Linked DNA regions of Homo sapiens: regions 1 and 3 are each linked to region 2. Evidence: fine-mapped expression QTL. A gene starts in region 2. Each other region holds a variant in brackets. All regions are shown on one strand. Distances are from middle to middle. Region 1 holds the start of LOC105378838 (a long non-coding RNA gene). Region 2 holds the start of GBP5 (guanylate binding protein 5). Region 3 has its middle 38 kb from the start of GBP6.

The links.
Region 1: its variant is fine-mapped to the expression of GBP5 in whole blood (INTERVAL, PIP above 0.99).
Region 3: its variant is fine-mapped to the expression of GBP5 in whole blood (INTERVAL, PIP above 0.99).

Annotation. Positions count from the first base shown.
Region 1 is chr1:88,607,757-88,615,779 of GRCh38, forward strand. The region is part of intron 1 of PKN2-AS1 (PKN2 antisense RNA 1); the gene reads right to left. It overlaps LOC105378838 (a long non-coding RNA gene), which reads left to right and starts at 7,531. Exons shown (of 3, transcript XR_947572.4): 1 at 7,531-7,611. The variant T/A (reference allele first, on the strand shown) is at 4,022.
Region 2 is chr1:89,267,982-89,276,004 of GRCh38, forward strand. GBP5 (guanylate binding protein 5) reads right to left here and starts at 4,879. Exons shown (of 12, transcript NM_052942.5): 1 at 4,471-4,879; 2 at 2,774-2,881; 3 at 1,385-1,593; 4 at 748-875. The coding sequence starts at 1,574. It also overlaps the pseudogene LOC100421401.
Region 3 is chr1:89,397,967-89,405,989 of GRCh38, forward strand. No RefSeq gene overlaps it. Among named protein-coding and RNA genes, the nearest start is that of GBP6, 38 kb to the left of the region's middle. The variant C/CTTT (reference allele first, on the strand shown) is at 4,272.

The DNA.
Region 1 (8,023 bases), 660 kb before region 2:
AAGAATTCATTTTGAAAACATAAATCAGTCAAGAATAAAATGGACGTTCATTACAATGGTATTCATAATCATGAAAATTCTTAAACAACCTAAATATTTATCAGTAGGAAAAGGTTAATTATGATATACCCACATAATGAAATATTATACAATAATTTTAAAATAGTGTATAGATTAATATTCATTGACATAAATAGATATATATGATTATTATGTATAATATAGTTACAAAAGAACATTTATAATAAATAACAATTATAGTACAAATTATAGTATAAAATATAGTACCTATAAATACATAGAAAAATGTGGAAAAATATGTGTATGTATGTGTGTATATTTTTTCCTGATTTATTTTTATTTTCTTTTTTCCAATTTGTCTGTTTCTAATTTTCTACAATTAATATGTATTACTTCTGCAACACGACTTTTTAAATTAATGCCCCACCCAAATTTTATTCACTTCTCAGGGACCTCAGATTGTGCGAAGGTCACTATCTCCATTTGACCAAAAATTGAAAAACCATCTATGGCATATTACTGCACTTTCAGGAATTGTCACTAGGTGGTACACTGTTTCTCTAGCAGATGTTCACGACCTTTTAATTTAAGTTAGCCATATGTACGTACTGCTGTGACTCTACAGACAATAACTTAGTTCAATAGTTTTTTTCATGTAAAAATTATTTCACCTTCCCCCACATCACTAACAACATAGCCAATTGCTCCATTGCCTAACTATAGGCACTCAAGAAATGTTTGTTGGGCAAATAAGGCATAACTAAAAATAGAAGCCGGGTGCAGTGGCTCATGCCTGTAATCTCAGCAATTTGAGATACCAAAGCAGGTGGATCGCTTGAACTCAGGAGTTCGAGACCAGCCTGGGCAATATGGCGAAATCCCATCTCTACAAAACAAATTTAAAAATCAGCCGGGCGTGGTGGTACACATCTGTAGTCCCACCTACTCTGGAGGCTGAGGTGGGAAGATCACTTGTGGCCAGGAAGTTGAGGCTGCAGTGAGCTGGGACTGCACCACTGCACTCCAGCCTGGGTGACACAGCAAGACCGTGTCTCAAAAATAAAATAAAAATAGAAATGGCTAAAGCATAAAATCTTGAGCAGCTTCTTCAATTATTTTGTGAACTTTCTAAATGAAGTTAAATAGGTTTTATGGTTGCCTTTTTTATACAATGCTCTGCATTGTGAATCTACAAAAAAAAATGGAATCAACATTTATTGAGCATACTTGAATCCCTTTTCTTACAAAGCATCTTTGAAGGAATGACATTCCAAGGAATATGATTTGGAAAATCTTGTCCTCAATGCTTTTCCATCTTGTTTAATGTAATCACCTTAGTGTCAACCCATCTGAAGTTCCAGTCTTCTTTACTCTTCATTATGGACTTCATCTTTGCTGCATTCATATTCCCCAGGACTATCAAGTCCCATGTTGGCACTAGCTATTATGTTGCTAGCCAGGTGCTGAAGTCTGTCAAATGCAGACTCTCTGCACTTAAAGCACTTCTCTCTGAGTAGAGCCAGTTTCACCACAGGTGTTGATTAAATAGATCCTGTTCCTATTCACACCTGATTCCAGTCTGAACTAAACTCAGTTCAAAGCCAAGAACATGCCTACTCTCCAGCCTCTAGTTCATATGAGACATTAAAATCTCATTTCCCTGCAATGCTTGTGAAATAGAGCTGAGTGACTTACTATGCACTCATTAAGTCAAACTTTGAAAATGTCTCCATTATCTAAAGAAAATAAAAAGTCAACCAGATACGTAGACATAGTCGTATTACACTGAGAAATGGTCTAAAGAAGCAACAATTGTTATCTATTATCCAGGTATCTGTTTGTCTCTTCCACGTGACTGTGAGCCCCTTGGGAATAAGAACCATGTAGAGTTCACCTCAGCTCCCCCAGTAACTAGCATGGTATCTGGAACATTGCAGACTTTAATAAATGTTTAAAGAATAAATAAATTACCAAAGGAGTGAATGAGTACAGTAATATGTTTATTAGTAAATACTAGAAGGAATTAGTTCTAATAAATTACATTTTAAAGAAGTTCTAATAATATCACATTTAAAAATCCTGTATTAATATATGTTCTAATAATATCATAGTTCTTATAATATCTAGTTCTAAAAATAGAATGAGATAGTTCTATTAGTTCTAATAATATCACATTTTAAAACCCTGTATTAATATATGTTAACATCAAAATTGCTTTCTTATTCAATTATTCTTTCAAAAAACAGTAAAGTACACACTGTATTTCAGACACTGTGCTAAGGATATAAAGATGGATTAGAAATAATTTTGTCTTCAAGAAGTATAGTATAGTGAATAACTTACATGTATTTAATGTTTCTTCGTGTATTTTCATACTTGATACTCAGAATAATTCAATGATACTGATGTCTTTCCCATCTACATTTAATTTTTTTTGTTTGTTTTTTGTTTTTTGTTTTGTTTTGTTTTGTTTTGTTTGAGATAAGGTCTCACTCTGTCGCCCAGGCTGGAGTGCAGTGATGTGATCACAGCTTACTGCAGCCTCGAATTCCTAGGCTCAAGCAATCCCCCCATCTCACTCTCTCAAGTAGCTGGGACTACAGGAGTACATCACCACACCCAGCTAATGTTTTTATTTTTTGTAGAGACGAAGCTTCTCCATGTTGCCCAGGCTGGTGTCAAACTCCTGGGCTCAAGTGATTCTCCTGCCTGGGCCTCCCAAAGTGCTGAGATTACAAGTATGGGCTGGGCGCCGTGGCTGATGCCTATAATCCCAGCACTTTGGGAGGCTGAGGTGGGCGGATCACCTGAGGTCAGGAGTTCGAGACCAGCCTGGCCAACATGGTGAAACCCCATCTCTACTAAAAATTCAAAAATTAGCCAGGCGTGGTGGCAGGCTCCTGTAATCCTAGCTACTCAGGAGGCTGAGGCAGGAAAATCGCTTGAACCTGGGAGGCGGAGGTTGCAGTGAACCAACATCGCGCCATTGCACTCCAGCCTAGGGGACAAGAGCAAGACTTCATCTCAGAAAAAAAAACACACAAAAAAAACAAGTATGACTCACCATCCCCGGCCTACTTTAAAACATTTTTTAAGTAATATGTAGATACAAAGGAATTCGTATAAAATTGGTGTAGGTATAAAGTATAACACGCTCCTGTGTAGATGTCCTCAACTTAAGGACAAGGACCTTTAAGTCCTCTGTGTCCCATTTCATTTCCCCTAAGAAATACTTCCCTGAATTTTCTCTTTATCCTTCCCTCATTTTTATTTACATTTAACCATGTTTGTTTTGCTAAGCAATATATTATGTGCTTTTGCATATTTTTGTACTTTTTTCAAATGGAAACATACTGGAAACTTACTCTTTCTGCTCAACATTATAGTTTTGGCTTGTATAGTCTTAATCCACATGGATTTGGTTTTTTATATATAGTGTGAGATAAGGTTGCAATTTTAGTTTTTAAATTCACACAACCACACAACCAATTGTTCCAGTGCCACTTATTAAAAATGTCATCTTTTCCTAAACAATTTGCAGTGTCATCTCAGTCATGAATAAAATTTCCGTTTTTGTATTGGTCTGTTTCTGGGCTCTCTTTTCTCCTTTGTTGGTCAATTTGTACAGTTCTGCACCTTATTCCAGACTGTCTGAAGAAATAGAGCTTTATAATAAATTCTTAATTTTTGATAAGCAAGTTATTCTACTCTGTACTGCTTCTTTAGAAATGTCTTATTTACTCTTAATCATTTGTACTTGATATAAATTTTAAAATCAGTTTGTCATATCTCCTTTATACATATAATTGAATGGAACATCAAAGTGGCTCATAATGAACCATGATGAAGACAAAGTTTGAACCCATGCCTTCTAACTCCCAAATCCAAGACTCCTTTTTTCTTTTATTTTTTTTTTTTTTTTTTTTTTTGAGACAAGTTCTCACTTTGTCACCCAGGCTGGAGTGCAGTGGTACAATCATAGCTCACTGTATCTTCAACA[T/A]CCTCAGCTCAAGCAATTTTCCCTCAGACTCCCCAGTAGCTGGGATTTCAGATACACACCACTGCGCCCAGCTAATTTTTTGTATTTTTTATAGAGACAGAGTCTCACTTTGTTCCCAGACTGTTCTCAAACTCCTGGCTTCAAGCAATCCTGCCGCTTTGGCCTCCCAAAGTGCTTGGATTACAGGCGTGAGCCACCATGCCCAGCCTCCAAGACTCCTTCTATGTAGCACTCAGCATTTCAGGGTTTTAATACTCTTTAATATCCCCACCAAAAGATAAGCTCATACAGCTACTTCGGAGTATTCTGCAACTAATTTATCAGAAGATCCACCAAAATGTAATGTTCTTTAAGGGATTCCATGGGACTATGCTGAAGTTCTTTAATGGATAATTATTGCAAGGCTGCTAGATGTTTGTTCAACATCCAATTATTCTCCCATTGTTCCTCAGTGATACAACCTTCATTTTATTGGGGCATGAGGGCAAAGTTGCCCAGCTAATAAATACTAAATTTCCCAGCCACCTTTGTAGATAGAGGTATCCATGTCTCACTGTTCTGCCCAAGGAGACATAAGCAGCTGTTTGGAGGCAGGAAAAAGGAAAATTCCTCAAAGAGGGAGGGGCAGACTCAGCTGACAGGCCCTTTGTGCCCTTTGAGTCCTTTGTGCCCTTTGTTCTTTCTCCTTCGTGCATCCTAAACTGCACACATAATGGCAAGTGTTGCAGCAGCCACTTGCATTTGACCACAAGGGGAAGGCCAAGAGAAATTACAAAGATCTGAGGGATATGCTCTCCTTGAGCCTCTGTACCATCCTTGTATACCATTCTTTCAGACTTTTCATTTTATTTAAGAAAAATAAACCTCTATTTGACTCAAGACACCGCCATTTGGGTTTTCTATTACAAACAGCCAAATTTAATATCTACTGATAAAGAATCAAATAGCACCTTTGCTCTAAAATTATATCTGCTTACAGTTATCTCTTCCATGGTATATAGTACAGAACTTTTACAGCTCCAACCCAGCCATTAAGTCAAAGTTCTTTTCCAGGGTACAAAGTGAGCTCCACCTACGGTACTACTCATGTTCATGCTCGAATGGGTTGGGCATCTGTTACAGTGAAAATATATGCCCCTTGGCCAGGTGCGGTGACTCATGCTTGTAATCCCAGCACTTTGGGAGGCCAAGGCGGGTGGATCATTTGAGGTCAGGAGTTCAAGAATATATGACCCATGTAAACTGGCACTCTTACCCACTTCAACTTCCCTCATGCTGGCGTTTGACGTATATGACTCTAATAAGTACATATTAACACTTCAAGTCCTTTTTAAAAGATTAAGGCCAGGTGCAGTGGCTCATTCCTCTAATCCTAGCACTTTAGGAGGCTGAGGAAGGTGGATCACTCGAGACCAGCCAGGCCAACATGGCAAAACTTCGTCTCTACTAAAAATACAAAAAATTAGCCGGGCACGGAGGCGGGCGCCTGTAATCCCAGCTATTCAGGAGGCTGAGGCACAAGAATCACTTGAACCTGGGAGGCAAAGGTTGCAGTGAGCCGAGATCACACCACTGCACTCAGCCTGGGTGACAGAGCAAGACTCTGTCTAAGAAAAAAAAATAGTAATAATAATTAACTCTTAGAAGAAGGCAGGATGGTAGAAGTGTTTAGCCCAACTTCCCTTGCAATGTATGCAAGCATGGATGTTTGACATTCTACAGACACCGAACATCTGGCAAGACATCATGCTAAAGGTTGTAAGGGGTTCAGAGATGAAGACATAGTCCCTAGTTTGAAAGAGTTTATAATCTAGTAAAGAAAACAGGCTAACTTGATGATTCCACCTTCTGAGGCTGAGACTCAAATTCTTGGAATAAGAGATTGAGGGCCAAGGTCAATGGGAACCTGCACATTTCTACCATCTACCATGGGCCCAGAAAAAAAGAATTGTGGCAATATTGTATTTATCTCAGATGCCACAGAGCATCTGTTTTTTAAATTTTATGTATAGGATCTCTGTCCTTTTTTAATTCCTATTTGCCTTATTTTACATAACATGTACTGCCATTAAATCTGGAAGTCCCAACTGCTTTTGAAAAATTAAAAATATATATATAAACTAATTTATAGGTTGAGGTGGGAGGATTGCTTGAACCCAAAATTCTCAAGCAGCAGTGAGCTATGATCACACCACTGCACTCCAGCCTGGGCAACAGAGCAAGACCCTGTCTCAAAATAAATAAAATGTCATAAACTATGAGATATAGTGAGAAGATTATTAAAATAAATCATAAATATTGGTTCTAAGACTCATTGGCTATGTTATCTTTGGCAAGTGGTTTAAACTCTCTAACACCATGTGTTCCCCCACAACCTGAGGCTATACCCATTTACCATGCAGAGTGCTTGTGAGGTTCAAATGATAAAAGTGTATGTGATTTGACAAAAAAAAATTCATTGCATGCCTACCATGAACAAGCACTCTTCTAGTCACAGTGAACAGAAGACACTCTGCACTCATGCACCTATAATATAGTAGGTGATAAAGACACGTAATATCAATAGTGAAAGTGCTAAGAAGAAAAATAAAGTATGTAATTATCATTACTGTTAAAGATAGGGAATTAGAGAGGATGTAAAGAAAAATTAAAAGTCTCCAGGGTTAATTTAACTTTCCGTTTAGCATAATGAGTTTAGGATTCTCTGAGACATTTTACTTTATGAGCAGAAGGTTCCTTTTGTGATAGGCTTGCCGGGAAGGAGTATCATTTGAACAGAGTCCTGAATGAACAGGGAGATGGACAACATAGATATCTGGAGAAAGGCTATTTAAGCAAAGAGAAAAAGAGGCAAAGGCCTAGAGACTGGAGCATGTTTGACCATTCAAGTACCCAGCAGATATTCAGGACATGATAGTTCCTTTGCAGCAGTGATATTTCCAGCTGCCCATTCTGCAACAAAGTTGTACCACCCCTTCATCTCCTTCAGTCTGAACTCTGGACCATACCACAAGCTATCTCTTTCTTTGAAATTCTCACACTACCAGCACTCTCACTCTCTTCTTCTCTTTTAGGTTAAGCTAAATGCTTAAAGTGTCCTCTTTTTGAAAGTTAACATATACTGAGAGCCAGATATGTGTTGAGCATTTTACTAAACAGTTTGAGTATTTTAACTTATTTGATCCTCACAAAAATCCTAGATAGTTATTATTGTGTTCCAAATGTGGAAACAGATTAAAAAGTTGAATATGGTCAAGTTCACCCAGCTAAGTTGAAACTTCAACCGAAGACATCTTGTATTTATGTCCATCAGATTAGCCACTATCCTATGCTACTTTCTTGTCAACTAAAGATACTGCAGACCTATTGATGAACAAGTTTGGAATAATCTCTGTTAAGGAAAAATCAATTGTCCTAAAGGAGTGATTTGCAATTCCAGCCTTCTAGAACTCTGGAGTGCTCATAGTCATTCATTCATTCAACATTTATTAAGCACCAGTTATGTGCAAGGACTGTGCAAGATTCTGGGGATAGAGCATGCAGCTAAAAAAGGCCCCTGTCCCAATGAGTCAAAGGTATATCAAAACTCTGTAAGTGAAATTTGTTTGCTATACTTTAAGAGTGGGGGAAGGTATATAAATAGAATAAAATAATTATAATAAACTGTTACCACCAGGGTATCTCAATTGCAAAGATAAGTTGAAAATCACCTCTCTAAAGAAGAGAGAGAGTCTAAAGGAATCTGCCTGTGTCATCATCAAGTCCCATTTGCTATATCCCAAAGGAGTCTCTTTATACTAGATTTTCAAGTATCCCATCATAAGAGTTAAAAGTCATTAGGTCCAAATGTGTTCTTTATTGTTTGAGGGTTTTCATCTATGTGTATTTTTACTACCTGGGGTTTGAAAAGCTGCAAACTAAATTTCATAAACCATAAAAACTTATAATGCTATTAACTTGGGATGAGCTTAATCTTTCATTTCCTATCTCCTTCAACCTTAC
Region 2 (8,023 bases):
CCTGGCAAATCAAAAACAAAGACAAAAAACACACACACAGAAAAAAAACAATGGAAGTTCAAGAGAAAGATCCAGTTGTGTGCTGGAGCCAACTCATACCAACTCATGACAGCAAATTGTGTGCATGTCTTCCCAAGTCTGAGTTTAGTGAATTAACTTTGGTAGCTTGAAATCAATTATGATGGGAGTATTCAGAAAATAGTCAAGTGCTACAAATCATGGTTGTTTTTGTTTTTGTTATTTTGTCCTTGAGCTGGTTGTTAAGTACTTACCAGCATATAACTAGGAAAGGCCCATGTATCTACTGTTTTTAAGTAGTGAGTTGAATAAGAAAGACCAAAGAAAAAATAAAACATTTGGAGAGACTTACTTCTCTTATCAAAGTCAGAAAGCTACAAGTGCTAGAGCTCTGATTGGAACACAAGTTCATTTAAGAACAGAACCCACTATTAACTAGTATAATCTACAGGATCAGGCTTGTAACAGTGATTTTATATGCATCATGTTTATGCATTTGCGTTAATTGCCTAGCTCAACATCAACACTGCTCTTCTAATACTGATTCTGGCTTATAAATGTATTTTCTCATGTCAGGCTTCCAAACTCTGAATATTAAAAATACAAAGGAAAACAATGGGGGTATACATTGGTCAAGTGGAACTACAAATTTAGAAAAATAAACCTAAAATCTCCCTGTGAAAAGACAGTTCAGAGATTAGGAGGTTAAAAAAAGGAATCCTTCCTTACCTTCTCTACATCTCCCAGGCCCTCGGTGTCAAGCAGAACTAATGTGTGATTTGGCCAGTTGGGATGAGGCACACACCATATCCAAATTCCCTTGGTGTGAGACTGCACCGTAGATGCAACAGAGAAGCCTGTCAGGGGGAGTGAGAGGTTGTAATAGAAGAGAAACTCTGGAAATTGGGGATTTGCTTGATCATTCAGCTAGAGTTTAAGGAAAGCAAGATGAGGAGATAGCAGAATGTACAACCAGTATTGATTTGAATGATGATGCAGAAATGGAAAAACAATATCAAATACCATAGGTTGGAACTTTGATATTAAAAAAATATTATGCTACTAAAATGTTGCTAGTTTATAATTATGTATACGGGAATTACTTCATTGATGTCTTACTCCTTACAAGGAGAATATATTATACATTTTACAAGAAGAAATCAAGGCAAAGAAAAAAAAAAGAGGTGATATGTCAGGAACAGAGAACTGGTCTTCATCTTCCAAAAGATAAAAAGACCAGCTGTAGCCTAAACATTGGCTTTTAATATTCATCCTCATGTCTTACTCTCTCCTTGCTTCCTCGTACTGGATGGTGACTGTGTGAATGGACAGAAGGGTTTGGCAGAGCTTTGCTGGTACCACTCACCCTTGTTCTTCCCAGCCAGCTTGTTCATCAGGTAGGATTTGCCAGTGCGATAGAGGCCCACAATCGCTACCACAACTACAGGTTGCGTAATGGCAGACAGGATCTCCAAAGCTTCCTGATTAACCTTCAGCTGCTCATTAAAGTTCTCGATGAGGCACATGGGGTCTGACATGTGGATCTCTAAAGCCATGTCTAGGATGTTACTTTGCCTGCAAGGGAACAGATGGGATAGGCTGGAATTTCTGGTGTTTGTTTAATAAGCAAAGGAAGTCATTTTGCTTACTGAACCTGGGGACATACTACTCCCCAGCACTGCCTAAGTTTCTGGAAAAAAAAAGTTTTAAAATAAAAAGAGTCCTGTAAAATAGAGAGACTTTATTTTAAAACAAAAGTAAGTCCTAGGCCCTTTATATGTCTACTATAGGCCATTCTACTGGTTCTTAAATATTTGATAGGCATACGAAAATCCATTTCCTGCGTCTAACCTACTAGTTTGAATCTAACTCTTATTCCATTGGTTTTTGGCTTAGTTATGTTTTTTAGTTTTTACCTCCCTGGGTTCCTATATTAATTCTTTATGATGTTCTTTATTAATATATTACACTGTTCCTTTTACTTTGTGTCAACTTCATTTTTTTCAGTTAGATCTATGTCCAGTCAAACTGCATTACATTAAATACTACCAAGTCATTATGCAGCATTATCTAACAAATCATAGCTGTTTGCTTCTTAGTGATATACTTGAAATTTTTTACATAGTTACTAATGTGCTTTATTAAACCAAAACTTCAAAGCATGATTATTTTATGATTGACTGAATGAGTAAAACAACTTCCTTTAATAATACTTAACCTATTTTTTTCTAACTTCTGAGCATCAATCCCTATAACCTAAAGAGTCTCTGGTTAAAAAAAATGTTTGAGCTATATGAGAAAAAGCAAATGCCATAAAAATATGCTTTTCTACTTTGCCTTATCATAAAGGATAGTTTTCTTCCATTTTAAAGGTGGTTATTTACTAAGGATGCTAAAACTTCACTATCCGCTTGACGAGTTCTTTCACTAAAATCTTACAATGAAAAGGTTTGGATTCTCCATCTCTTTACTAGCAAATTTCAAAAACTGTCATTTTACAATTATGAAGACCCATTCTCCCTGCTTCCTCATAGCTAATGCCCTGGAAATCATTATGTTGACATAAATTAAAACAGAAACTGCTTGGCAGCAGAAAATAGGATATCCATTTGCAAATGGTGTAGCACTAGGACATGGGAGTCAGGAAATGCCTAGTGCAAGCCTGACCCAGAAAGAGGCAATTTTGCAACAAATTTAGAGACTCAAATGGCAGGTCTCTTCTCATTCTAATCTATTTTCAATGTAGTATTAGTACCTTATATATGTAGAATTCTGGTTGCCTGATTTGTATGCAGCGGAGGCCAGAATAATTTTTCCACTAGAAAGATATGGGCACCTTGAAGTGATGATCTACAACAATTAGCTAGAAAAACAAAAGATACATAAGCCAAATCTATAAGCAGATATTGAGAGCTTACAAGATCTTATGATTTGGGATGATGTCACTAAGGAAGAGGGAATGAATGTGTCTGAGTGTTCAGACTCTCTTATGAATGACAATAGCATTGTATATCTACATTAATAATAGTATTTGACATGTTGTCCCCAATGTCATCTGGATAGCATCTTTAATGCTTTTAGTAAAGCCAAATTTCTAAAACATTATTGCAGATTTAATGTGTTCAAGCCACAAACATAACTGTTGCTCTGTTATTCATAACTTAGTGTTCTGGGATGCATTCTCCCTAACTGCTTGAGCCCTATAACCTTTGCAAATAAAAACAATGCAAGAATGGTTCAAAATACACACACAAAATGCACATTTTGCCCTTGCCTTAAATTAGACTTGATTTCCAACCCCAGCCCTACAACTGGCTATCTGTATCTCTCTGGCATTTCACTCAATTCTTTCAGCTTGTTTTCTAAAAAAGCAAAAGTAAATAAACAACTATTTATTAACATCAGTATAACTGCTGGCTTATGAAAGAGAGTGAGCGAGCTGCAGGAGATTTTAAAAAGTGCAAAGAAGGAAAATGCCCAAAAAAAAATACTAAGAGAAAATGCTCAGAAGTGGTAGTGGAAGGATTTCTGAAAGAAAACATCTGTTTTCAGCCATATGATTCTAGTTTGGGTTTTGCGCCTGCATTTGTATATGTAGTTGTTATTGCTTGCTTTTGCTTATTTTGCATAGTTTCTGGTTTGAATTTCAAGGAAAAGGAAAAGGCTCTTATTAAGGATATAAATGGAAATCAAACTAGTACAAAATGCTTGAAGTATGTGTCATGGTAAGAAATTCAAAGGAGAGAATTTCAACGAGTGAACAGTTGCCAGACAGTATTGAGGGATCCAGTTGGGCAACTGTTAAATTAGGTGATTCATAATAGTAAAGGCAATAGAGTAGTAGAAGCAGAACCCAACACAAAAGGGGTTAGTTAAGTGAGTAGATGCCAAGAAACCAACATGAATTAAGTCAGGGCTATTGCTAAAGGAAGAAATCTACTTTCAAACAAAGTACAAGACTATGACTAAAAATACATCACTGTTTTCATGAAACTTCTCTCTGGGCAACATTTTTTTCTTGTCCTTAATGTTTGCAAGCTACTTACATTGCATCATATTCATTGTTCTTTCTCATGAAAATAATAGCTATCATAGTTTTTGAAACTTTCATGCTGAAGTTCGAGTCAGTTTAATCAGATTTTATGAAGGACGAAGGTAACTTAAGTGGAAATTATGATCCTGAATAAGTCATAAAATTGCAAAGGAAGAAAAATAATTTGAAGGCATTTCAAACTCTTAGTTTAGTCACCACACACATTGATGTCTAATTCAGCAAGAGGCAGACACAGCTGGTACTTGATGAATTCTGCTGCCTGTCTGATAAGAATACAATTTATTCTTTACTGAGGTCTGATATACCACATCAGGATAAGCTGCATCCTATCCTTTGTAGAATGTTTCTAAAACCAAATGAATCTTGCAAATCTCTTCCACCTCTTGCCCCAGTCTTACCGTGTCCGGAATTGGTGGGTTCTTGGTCTCACTGACTTCAAGAATGAAGCCGCGGACCCTAGCGTTGAGTGTCACGGTTCTTAAAGGTGGCGTGTCAGGAGTTTGCTCCTTCTGATGTTCGGATGTGTTTGGAGTTTCTTCCTTCTGGTGGGTTCGTGGTCTGGCTGGCTCAGGAGTGAAGCTGCAGACCTTCGCGGTGAGTGTTACAGCTCTTAAGGCTGCGCGTCTGGAGTTGTTTGTTCCTCCTGGTGGGTTCGTGGTCTCGCTGGCTTCAGGAGTGAAGCTGCAGACATTCCCAGTGAGTGTTACAGCTCATAAAGGCAGTGTGGACCCAAAGAGTGAGCAGCAGCAAGATTTATTGCAAAGAGTGAAAGAACAAAGGTTCCACAGCCTGGAGGGTGACCTCAGTGGGTTGCCACTGCTGGCTACTTCTCTTATCTGGCCCCACCCACATCCTGCTGATGGGTCCATTTTACAGAGAGCCGATTGGTCCATTTTACAGAGAGCTGATTGGTCTGTTTTGACAGGGTGCTGATTGGTGTGTTTACAATCCCTGAGCTGGACACAAAAGTTCTTCATGTCCCCACTAGATTAGCTAGATACAGAGTGTGGATTGGCCTATTTACAAACCTTGAGCTAGATACAGAGTGCTGATTGGTGCATTTACAAACCTTGAGGTAGATACAGAGTGCTGATTGGTGCATTTACAATCCCTTAGCTAGACATAAAGATTCTCCAAGTCCCCACCAGATTAAATAGATACAGAGTGCTGATTGGTGTATTTACAATCCCTTAGCTAGACATAAAGATTCTCCAAGTTCCCACTAGACTCAAGAGCCCAGCTGGCTTCACCCAGTGGATCTTGCACCGGGCGGCAGGTGGAGCTGCCTGCCAGTCCTGCTCCATGCACTGGCACTCCTCGGTCCTTGGGCCATGGATGGGACAGGGTGCTGTGGAGCAGGGGTCAGCACAGGTTGGGGAGGCTCAGGCAGCACAGGAACCCATGGCGGGGTGAGGTGGGGAGCGGGAGAGGGGAGGAGGCTCAGGCATGGCAGGCTGCAGGTCCCCAGCCCTGCCCCACCGGGAGGCAGCTAAGGCCCTGCAAGAAGTGGAGCACAGCAGCTGCTGGCCCAGGTGCTAAGCCCCTCACTGCCTGGGGCCGCTCCGAGTGCAGGTCCCTCAGAGCCCAAGCCCACCCAGAACTCGCGCTGGCCCTCAAGCACCGGGCGCAGCCCCAGTTCCCACCCCTGCCTCTCCCTCCACACCTCCCAGCAAGCTGAGGGAGCCAGCTCCGGCCTCGGCCAGCCCAGGAAGGGGCTCCCACAGTGCAGCGGAGGGCTGAAGGGCTCCTCAAGTGCCGCCAGAGTGGGTGCCCAGGCAGAGGAGGCACCGAGAGCGAGGGAGGGCTGCAAGGGCTGCCAGCACGCCGTCACCTCTCATTACCTTGATTATAAAATCGGGAGAAGAGGTATTTTAGAGCTAGTAAGAAAACTGCTTCCATGAGGGACTGGGCACGGTGGCTCACGCCTGTAATCCCAGCATGTTGGGTGGCCGAGGCGGGTGGATGACGAGGTCAGGAGATCTAGACCATCCTGGCTAACACGATGAAACCCCGTCTCTACTAAAAATATACAAAAAATTACCTGGGCATGGTGGCGGGCGCCTGTGGTCCCAGCTACTCGGGAGGCTGAGGCAGGAGAATGGCTTGAACCTGGGAGGCGGAGCTTGCAGTGAGCCGAGACTGCACCACTGCACTTCAGCCTGGGTGACAGAGCGAGACTCTGTCTCAAAAAAAAAAAAAAAAAGAAAAGAAAAGAAAAAAGAAAGCTGCTTCGATGAGAACTTGCTGAGTTCGAACTCTCGTCTTTTACTTTCACTGTGGTGATTTCTCATTTATTTTCTTCACTCAGTCCTGGGGTTTTTGTTCTTCCCACCCCATTTTCCCTGCTCGAAAAAGGAGACAATTTGAATACAAAATATGGAATAACAGAAAGGGGGATTTTTGAAAGTTCTCTGTAGGAAATAGAAACCAAAAAGGAAATTCAGTGACTAAGCCAGATGACAAAGGGAATTGCCCAACTGTTACCTAGTGTAGATAGGCTGGATGTATTTGACCTGACTTCTTTGAAACTGCATGTTTCCTAGAAACTGCAGAGAATCCTTTCAGTGCCAGCCATACTCCTCCCTGCTTCCATTGTTGTTGTTACTAGAAGAGAAATTTGAGATCTTTCACAGTTGTTCAAAGTATGTGGTATTTCAAACCTAGCTTGAAATACGTTGACATTCATCTCCAGTTTGGGAGTAGGCCAGGGGAAGAGCTCATATGATTTTTGAGGTCTATTGTTGTGAAATGTTAGAGCTGCTCACACAGGACTAAGTTTATTACTTTCGCAGTAGGTTCAGTAGCTGAGAACTTTAACTCACAGGCAAGGACAAAGTTTTTGGCACTTAGTACATGATGAATGATAACAAGGATATTATTTATTAGACATTTGTAATGCCCTGGACAGGTTTCACTACTTTGTGTGGATTATTCTATTTTAATTCTCCCAACAAATGCTTTCTCCCAATTTTACAAAAGCTAAGACACAGGGAGATTTAGTAACTTGCCCAAAATCACAGAGCTACTAATAAATGGATCTTAAGACTGAAACCCAAGCACTTTATTGTAGTCCTTTTGTGTTTGTTGAGTGAATCATCATAATAATCATCATTATTATTGTCCCTTTTTAATAAATGGATTCTAAGATCTGGACACTAAATATCTCATATTATCCTGGTTTCAATCCTACAAGACAATTTTTTTTCTATCTTTATTTTACAATGAACAGAGTGGCTGTTAGGCAGTATTTTTGGAGCTTTAGTTCCTAGACAAGGATTTGTGAGCAAGGGATATTTATTTTGAAGGTGCTCATAAGAAACGGGGTAGGACAGTGGGAAAGTGAAAACTGGAACGGAATGAAGCCAGTGACTGGGAACATATCTAGCAGGTTTTGTTGTGGGAACCAGGAGTTAGATCTCCTCAGGTAACTCTAGGAAACAATGTAAAATCTGCCTCCAATTTCCCTCTTGGGTGGGTTAGAAACCTGGGGTACTTTTCTTCCAACTTCCTTTCATTTCTGGATAAAGACTGGTCCTGAAAGCATAACCCCCTTGCACTCCTGACCTGGCCCACGTGTGGGCTGAGAAAAAATGCTTAGATGAAGGATCTCTGATGTTTGCAGTGAGATGCCATTGGAATGTGCAAGGTTGAGTGATAAAGGGAGATGGCCTTCACAGATGTTGTGGGTATCCCATCCATATTGCCCCTATCTTATGCAAAGATCAACCTTTCCTTAATGGCTTCTTCAATTTTGTGGCTGGTCGTTAGTTTAAATATATATATATACACACACACACACACACACACAATAGGAAAGTCTAAGCTATAGTCCTCTTTGCTGCAACTGATTTTGTGATCCTAACTGATATTCAAGATCTTCTCCTCTATTACCCATTCTAGGTTTTGCTCATACTTGATCAGGAGTTCTCCTTGTCTAGGTTGCCTTCTCAG
Region 3 (8,023 bases), 130 kb after region 2:
ATTCACTGAATCTGTAGATTTCTTTGGGTAGTATGGACATTTTTAAAATGTTCATTCTTCAAATCCATGCAAATGGAATAACTTTCCATTTTTTGTATACTCTTCGATTTCTTTCCTCAGTGTTTTGTAGTTTTCATTGTAGAGATTTTGTTTTTGTTTTGTTTTGTTTTTGTTTTTGTTTTGAGACAGAATTTTGCTCTTGTCACCCAGGCTGGAGTGCAATGGCACAATCTTAGCTCATTGCAGCCTCCACCTCCCAGGTTCAAGCAATTCTCCTTCCTCAGCCCCCCAAGTAGCTGGGATTACAGGTACCTGCCACCACAGCCAGTTAATTTTTGTATTTTTAGTAGAGATGGAGTTTCACCATGTTAGTTTCACCATGTTGGGCAGGCTGGTCTTGAACTCCTGACCTCAGGTGATCTGCCCACCTCGGTCTCCCAAAGTGCTGGGATTACAGGCTGAGCCACCATGCCTCAGACCTCGTTGTAGAGATCTTTCCATTCTTTTGGTTAATTCCTAGATATAAAATTTTATTAGCAGCTACTGTAAATGTGATTGCTTTTTTATTTCTGTGTCAGATTGTTTACTGTTGGCATATAGAAATGCTATGAGTTGTGTATATTACTTTTGTATCCTGAAACTTTACTGAATTTATCAGCTCTAATAGTTTTTGGTGGAGTTTTTAGGTTTTTCCAAATATAAGATCATGTTATGTGCAAACAAAGATAATTTGACTTCTTCCTTTCCAATTTGGATACCCTTTATGACATTCTCTTGTCCAGTTGCTCGACCTAGAACTTCTAGTACTATGTTGAATAACAGTGGTAAAGTGGGTATCCTTGTTATCTTCCAGGTATTAGAGAATGGGCTTTCAGTGTTCCCCCATTCAGTATGATATTGGCTGTGAGTCTGTCACATATGGCTTTTAGTGTGTTGAAGTATGTTCCTTCTATACCCAGTTTTATTAGGGTTTTTATTGTGAAAGGATGTTGAATTTTATCACATACTTTTTCAGCATCAATTGAAATGATCAAATGGTTTTTGTTCTCCATTATGTTGCTATAATGTATCACATTGTTTGATTTGCATATGTGGAAACAACCTTGAATCCCTGGGATAAGTCCGACTTAGTCATAAATTATTTTCAATGTATTGTTGAATTTGATATGGTAATGTAGTGTTGAAAATTTTTGCATCAATATTTATCAGAGATATTGGCCTGTAGTTGCTTTTTTTAAATAGAGTTTAAGTTGTAGGGTACATATGCAGAACGTGCAGTTTTGTTACATAAGTATGCATGTGCCATGGTGGTTTGCTGCACCCATCAACCCATCAACTACTTTAGGTATTTCTCCTAATGCTATCCCTCCCCTAGTCTCCCACCCCTAACAAGCCCCAGTGTGTGATATTCTCCTCCCTGTGTCCATGATTCTCATTGTTCAGCTCCCACTTATGAATGAGAACATGTGGTGTTTGGTTTTCTGTTCTTGTGTTAGTTTGCTGAGAATGATGGTCTCCAGCATCATCCATGTCCCTGCAAAGGACATGAACTCATCCTTTCTCATGGCTGCGTAGTATTCCATGGTGTATATGTGCCACATTTTCTTTATCCAGTCTATCATTGATGGGCATTTGGGCTGGTTCCAAGTCTTTGCTGTTGTGAAAAGTGCCAAAATAAACATATGTGTGCGTGTGTCTTTATAGTAGAATGATTTATAATCCTTTGGGTATATACCCAGTAATGGGATTGCAGGGTCAAATGGTATTTCTAGTTCTAGATCCTTGAGGAATCACCACACTGTATTCCACAATGGTTAAACTAATTTACACTCCCACCAACAGTGTACAAGCTTTCCTATTTCTCCACATCATCTCCAGCATCTGTTGTTTCCTGACTTTTTAATGATTGCCATTCTAACTGGCATGAGATAGTATCCCACTGTGGTTTTGATTTGCATTTCTCTAATGACTAGTGATGATTAGCTTTTTTTCATATGTTTGTTGGCTGCAAAAATGTCTTCTTTTGAGAAGTGTCTGTTCATATCCTTCACCAACTTTTTGATGGGGTTGTTTGTTTTTTTCTTGTAAATTTGTTTAAGTTTTTTGTAGGTTCTGGATATTAGCCCTCTGTCAAATGGATAGATTTCAAAAATTTTCTCCCATTTTGTAGGTTTCCTGTTCAGTCTGATGATGGTTTCTTTTGCTGTGCAGAAGCTCTTTAGTTTAATTAGATCCCATTTGTCAATTTTGGCTTTTGTTGCCATTGTTTTGGTGTTTAGACATGATGTCTTTGCCCATGCCTATGTTCTGAATAGTATTGCCTAGGTTTTCTTCAAGGATTTTTATGGTTTTAGGTCTTACATTAAGTCTTTAATCCATCTTGAGTTAATTTTTGTACAAGGTGTAAGGAAGGGGTCCAGTTTCAGTTTACTACATATGACTAGCCAGTCAACACCATTTATTTAATAGGGAATCCTTCCCCATTGCTTGTTTTTGTCAACTTTGTCAAAGATCAGATGGTTGTAGATGTGTGGTGTTATTTCTGAGGCTTCTGTCCTGTTCCATTGGTCTATATATCTGTTTTGGCACCAGTACCATGCTATTTTGGTTACTGTAGCCTTGTAGTATGGTTTGAAGTCAGGTAGCGTGATGCCTCCAGCTTTGCTCTTTTGGCTTAGGATTTTCTTGGCTATGCGGGTTCTTTTTTGGTTCCATATGAACTTTAAAGTAGTTTTTTCCAATTCCGTGAAGAAAGTCAATGGTAGTTTGGTTGGGATGGCATTGAATCTATAAATTACCTTGGGCAGTATGGCCATTTTCACAATATTACTTCTTCTTATCCATGAGCGTGAAATGTTTTTCCATTTATTGTGTCACCTCTTATTCCCTTGAGCAGTGGTTTGTAGTTCTCCTTGAAGAGGTCCTTCACATCCCTTGTAAGTTGGATTCCTAGGTATTTTATTCTCTTTGTAGCAATTGTGAATTGGAGTTCACTCATGATTTGGCTCTCTTTTTGTCTATTATTGGTGTATAGGAATGGTTGTGATTTTCGCACATTGATTTTATTTCCTGAGACTTTGCTGAAGTTGCTTATCAGCTTAAGGAAATTTTGGGCTGAAACGGTGGGGTTTTCTAAATACACAATCATGTCATCTGCAATCAGAGACAATTTGACTTCCTCTTGTCCTATTTGAATACCCTTTACTTCTTTCTCTTGCCTGATTGCCCTGGCCAGAACATCCAATACTATGTTGAATAGGAGTGCTGCAAGAGGGCATCCTTGTCTTGTGCTGGTTTTTAAAGGCAATGCTTCCAGTTTTTGCCCATTCAGTATGATATTGGCTGTGGGTTTGTCATAAATAGCTCTTATTAATTTGAGATACGTTCCATCAATACCTAGTTTATTGAGAGTTTTCAGCATTAGGGGTGTTGAATTTTGTTGAAGGCCTTTTCTGCATCTATTGGGATAGTCATGTGGTTTTTGTCATTGGTTCTGTTTATGTGATAATGTTTATTGATTTGCATATGTTGAACCAGCCTTGCATCCCAGGTATGAAGCTGACTTGATCATTTTTGATGTGCTGCTGGATTCCGTTTGCCAGTATTTTATTGAGCATTTTCGCATAGACGTTCATTAGGGATATTGGCCTGAAATTTTCTTTTTTTGTTGTGTCTCTGCCAGGTTTTGGTATTAGGATGATGTTGGCCTCATAAAATGAGTTAGGGAGGATTCTCTCTTTTTCTGTTGTTTGGAATAGTTTCAGAAGGAATGGTACCAGCTCCTATTTCTACGTCTGGTAGAATTTGGCTGGAATCTGTCTGGTCCTGGGCTTTTTTTCATTGGTAGGCTATTAATTACTGCCTCAATTTTAGAACTTGTTATTGGTCTATTCAGGGATTCAACTTCTTCCTGGTTTAGTCTTGGCAGGGTGTATGTGTCCAGGAATTCATCCATTTCTTCTAAATTTTCTAGTTTATTTGTGTAGAGGTGTTTATAGTATTCTCTGATGGTAATTTGTATTTTTGTGGGATCAGTGGTGATATCCCCTTTATGATTTTTTGTTGCGTCTATTTGATTCTTCTCTCTTTTCTTCTTTATTAGTCTGGCTAGTGGTCTATTTTGTTGATCTTTTCAAAAAACCAGCTCCCGTATTCACTGATTATTTGAAGGGTTTTTCGTGTCTCTATCTCTTTCAGTTCTGCTCTGATCTTAGTTATTTCTTGTCTTCTGTTAGCTTTTGAATTTGTTTGCTCTTGCTTCTCTAGTTCTA[C/CTTT]TTTTTTTTTTTTTTTGAGATGGAGTCTTCCTCTGTCACCTAGCCTGGAGTGCAGTGGCACGATCTCAGCTCTCTGCAACCTCCGCCTCCCAGGTTCAAGCAATTCTCCTCCCTCAGCATCCCGAGTAGCTGGGACTACAGGCGCATGCCCCCATGCCTGGCTAATTTTTGTATTTTTATTAGAGATGGGGATTCACCATGTTAGCCAGAATAGTCTCAATCTCCTGACCTCATGATCCACCCGCCTCGGCCTCACAAAGTGAGGGGATTACAGATATAAGCCACCACGCTGGGCCTAGTTATTTTAATTTTGATGTTAGGGTTTCAGTTGTAGATCTTTTCTGCTTTCTCTTGTGGGCATTTAGTGCTATAAATTTCCCTCTAAATACTGCTTTAAATGTGACCCAGAGATTTTGGTACATTGTGTCTTTGTTCTCATTGGTTTCAAAGAACATCTTTATTTCTGCCTTCATTTTGTTATTTAACCAGTATTCATTCAGGAGCAGGTTGTTCAGTTTCCACGTAGTTGTGTGGTTTTGAGTGAGTTTCTTAATCCTGAGTTCTAATTTGTTTGCACTGTGGTCTGAGTGACTGTTTGTTAAGATTTCTGTTCTTTTGCACTTGCTGAGGAGTGTTTTACTTCCAATTATGTGGTCGATTTTAGAATAAGTGCTATGTGATGCTGAGAAGAATGTATATTCTGTTGACTTGGGGTGGAGAATTATGTAGATGTCTATTAGGTCTGCTTTGTCCAAAGCTGAGTTCAAGTCCTCAGTATCCTTGTTAATTTTCTGTCTCCTTGATCTGTCTACTATTGACAGTGGGCTGTTAAAGTCTCCAACTATATTGTGTGGGAGTCTAAGTCTCTTTGTATGTCTCTAAGAACTTGTTTTATGAATCTAGGTGCTCCTGTTTTGAGAGCATATATATTTAGGATGGTTAGCCCTTCTCATTTTATTGATCCCTTTACCATTATGTAATGCCCTTCTTTGTCTTTTTTGATCTTTGTTGGTTTTAAGTCTGTTTTATCAGATATTAGGATTGCAACCCCTCCTTTTTTTTTTTTTCACTTTCCATTTGCTTGGCAAATATTTCTCCATCCCTTTATCTTGAGCCTATGTGTGTCTTTGCAAGTGTGATGGGTCTCCTGAATATAGCACACGGATGGGTCTTGACTCTTTATCCAGTTTGCCAGTCTGTGTCTTTAATTGGGGCATTTAGCCCATTTACATTTAAGGTTAATATTATTATATGTGAATTTGATCCTGTCATTATGATATTACCTGGTTATTTTGCACATTAGTTGATGTAGTTTCTTCATGGTGCCAATGGTCTTTATATTTTGGTATGTTTTTGCAGTGGCTGGTACCAGTTTTTCCTTTTCATATTTAGTGCATCCTTCAGGAGCTCTTGTAAGGCAGGCCCCATGGTGACAAAATCTCTCAGCATTTGCTTGTCTGGAAAGGATTTTATTTCTCCTTCACTTACGAAGCTTAGTTTCGCTGGATATGAAATTCTGGATTGAAGATTCTTTTCTTTAAGAATATTGAATATTGGCCCCCACTCTCTTCTGGCTTGTAGGGTTTCTACAGACAGATCTGCTGTTACTCTGATGGGCTTCCCTTTGTAGGTAACCTGAGCTTTCTCTCTGACTGCCCTTAACGTGTGTTCCTTTGTTTCAACCTTGGAGAATCTGACGATTATGTGTCTTGGGGTTGCTCTTCTCAAGGAGTATTATAGTGGTCTTCTCTATATTTCCTGAATTTGAATGTTGGCCTGTCTTGCTGTTCTCCTGGATAATATCCTGCAGTGTGTTTTCCAACTTGGTTCCGTTCTCCCCGTCACTTCTGGGTACACAAATCAATTGTAGGTTTGGTCTTTTCACTTAGTCCCATAGTTCCTGGAGGCTTTGTTCGTTCCTTTTTATTCTCTTTTCTCTAATCTTGTCTTCACGCCTTATTTCAGTAAGTTGATCTCCAATCTCTGACATCCTTTCTTCTGCTATTGATTCGGCTATTGATACTTCCGAATGCTTCATGAAGTTATCATGGTTTTTTTTTTTCAGCTCCATCAGGTCATTTATGCTCTTCTCTAAACTGGATATTCTAGCTAGCAGTTCCTGTAATCTTTTATCAAGTTTCTTAGCTTCCTTGCATTGGGTTAGAACATGCTCCTTTAGCTCAGAGGAGTTTGTTACTACCCACCTTCTGAAGCCTACTTCTGTCAATTTGTCAAACTCATTCTCTGTCCAGTTTTGTGCCCTTGCTGGAGAGGAGTTGGGATCATTTGGAGAAGAGGCATTCTGTTTTTTGGAATTTTCAGCTTTTTTGTGCTGGTTTTTCGTCATCTTTGTGGATTTGTCTACCTTTGATTTTTGAGGCTGATGACCTTTGAACAGGGTTTTTGTGTGGGGGTCCCTTTTGTTGATGTTGGTATTTTTGCTTTCTGTTAGTTTTTCTTCTCAAAGTCAGGCCTCTCTTCTGCAGGTCTGTTGCAGTTTGCTGGAGGTCCACTTCAGACCCTGTTTGCTGGTATCGCCAGCAGAGGCTGCAGAACAGCAAGGATTGCTGCCTGCTCCTTCCTCCAAAAGCTGTGTCCCAGGGGGGGCACTGGCTTGATGCCAGCTGGAACTCTCCAGTATGAGATCTCTGTCAACCCCTGTTGGGAGGTCTCTCCCAGTCAGGGACCTACTTGAGGAGGCAGTCTGTCCTTTAGCAGAGCTCAAGCATTGTGCTGGGAGAATCCTCCTCATCAGGATCAACTGCTCTCTTCAGAGCTGGTAGGCAGTAACATTTAAATCTGCTGAAGCTGTGCCCACAGCCACCCCTTCCCTCAGGTCTCTGTCCCAGGGGGATGGGAGTTTTATCTATAAGCCCCTGACTGGGGCTGCTGCCTTTCCTTCAGAGATGCTCTGCCCAGTGAGGAGGAATCTAGAGAGGCAGTCTGGCCACAGCTGCTTTGCAGTGCTCTGTTGAGTTCCACCCAGTCCAAACTTCCCAGCCTCCTTAGCACTGTCAGGAGAAAACCGCCTACTCAAACCTCAGTAATGGTGGACGACCCTCCCCCAACCAGGTTCAATTGTCCCAGGTCAACTTCAGACTGCTGTGCTGGCAGTGAGAATTTCAAGCCAGTGTTTCTTAGCTTGCTGGGCTCCGTAGGAGTGGGACCCGCTGAGCAAGACAACTTGGCTCCCTGGCTTCAGCCCCCTTTCCATGAGAATGAATGATTCTGTCTTGCTGGGATTCCACCACTAGGGGAAAAAAAAAAATTCCTGCAGCCAGCTCGGTGTCTTCTCAAACAGCTGCCCAGTTTTGTGCTTGAAACCCCAGGGTCCTGGTGGTATAGGCACGAGGGAATATCCTGGTCTGCAGATTGCAAAAACCACACGGAAAAGCGTAGTATCTGGGTGGGTAGCACAGTCCCTCAGGGCTCCCCTTGGCTGGGGGAGGGAGGTCCCTGGCTCCTTGCACTTCGCAGGTGAGTCAATGCCCCACCCTGCTTCTGCTCGCTCTCTGTGAGCTGCACCACTGCCTAACCAGTCTCAATGAGATGAACAGGGTACCTCAGTCGGAAATGCAGAAGACTACACCCACTGCCTAACCAGTCCCAATGAGATGAACAGGGTACCTCAGTTGGAAACACAGAAATCACTTGCCTTCTGCATTGGTCTCACTGGTAGCTGCAGACCGGAGCTATTCCTATTCAGCCATCGTGCCAGATCTAAGACATGTTAAGCATTTTTTTATATACTT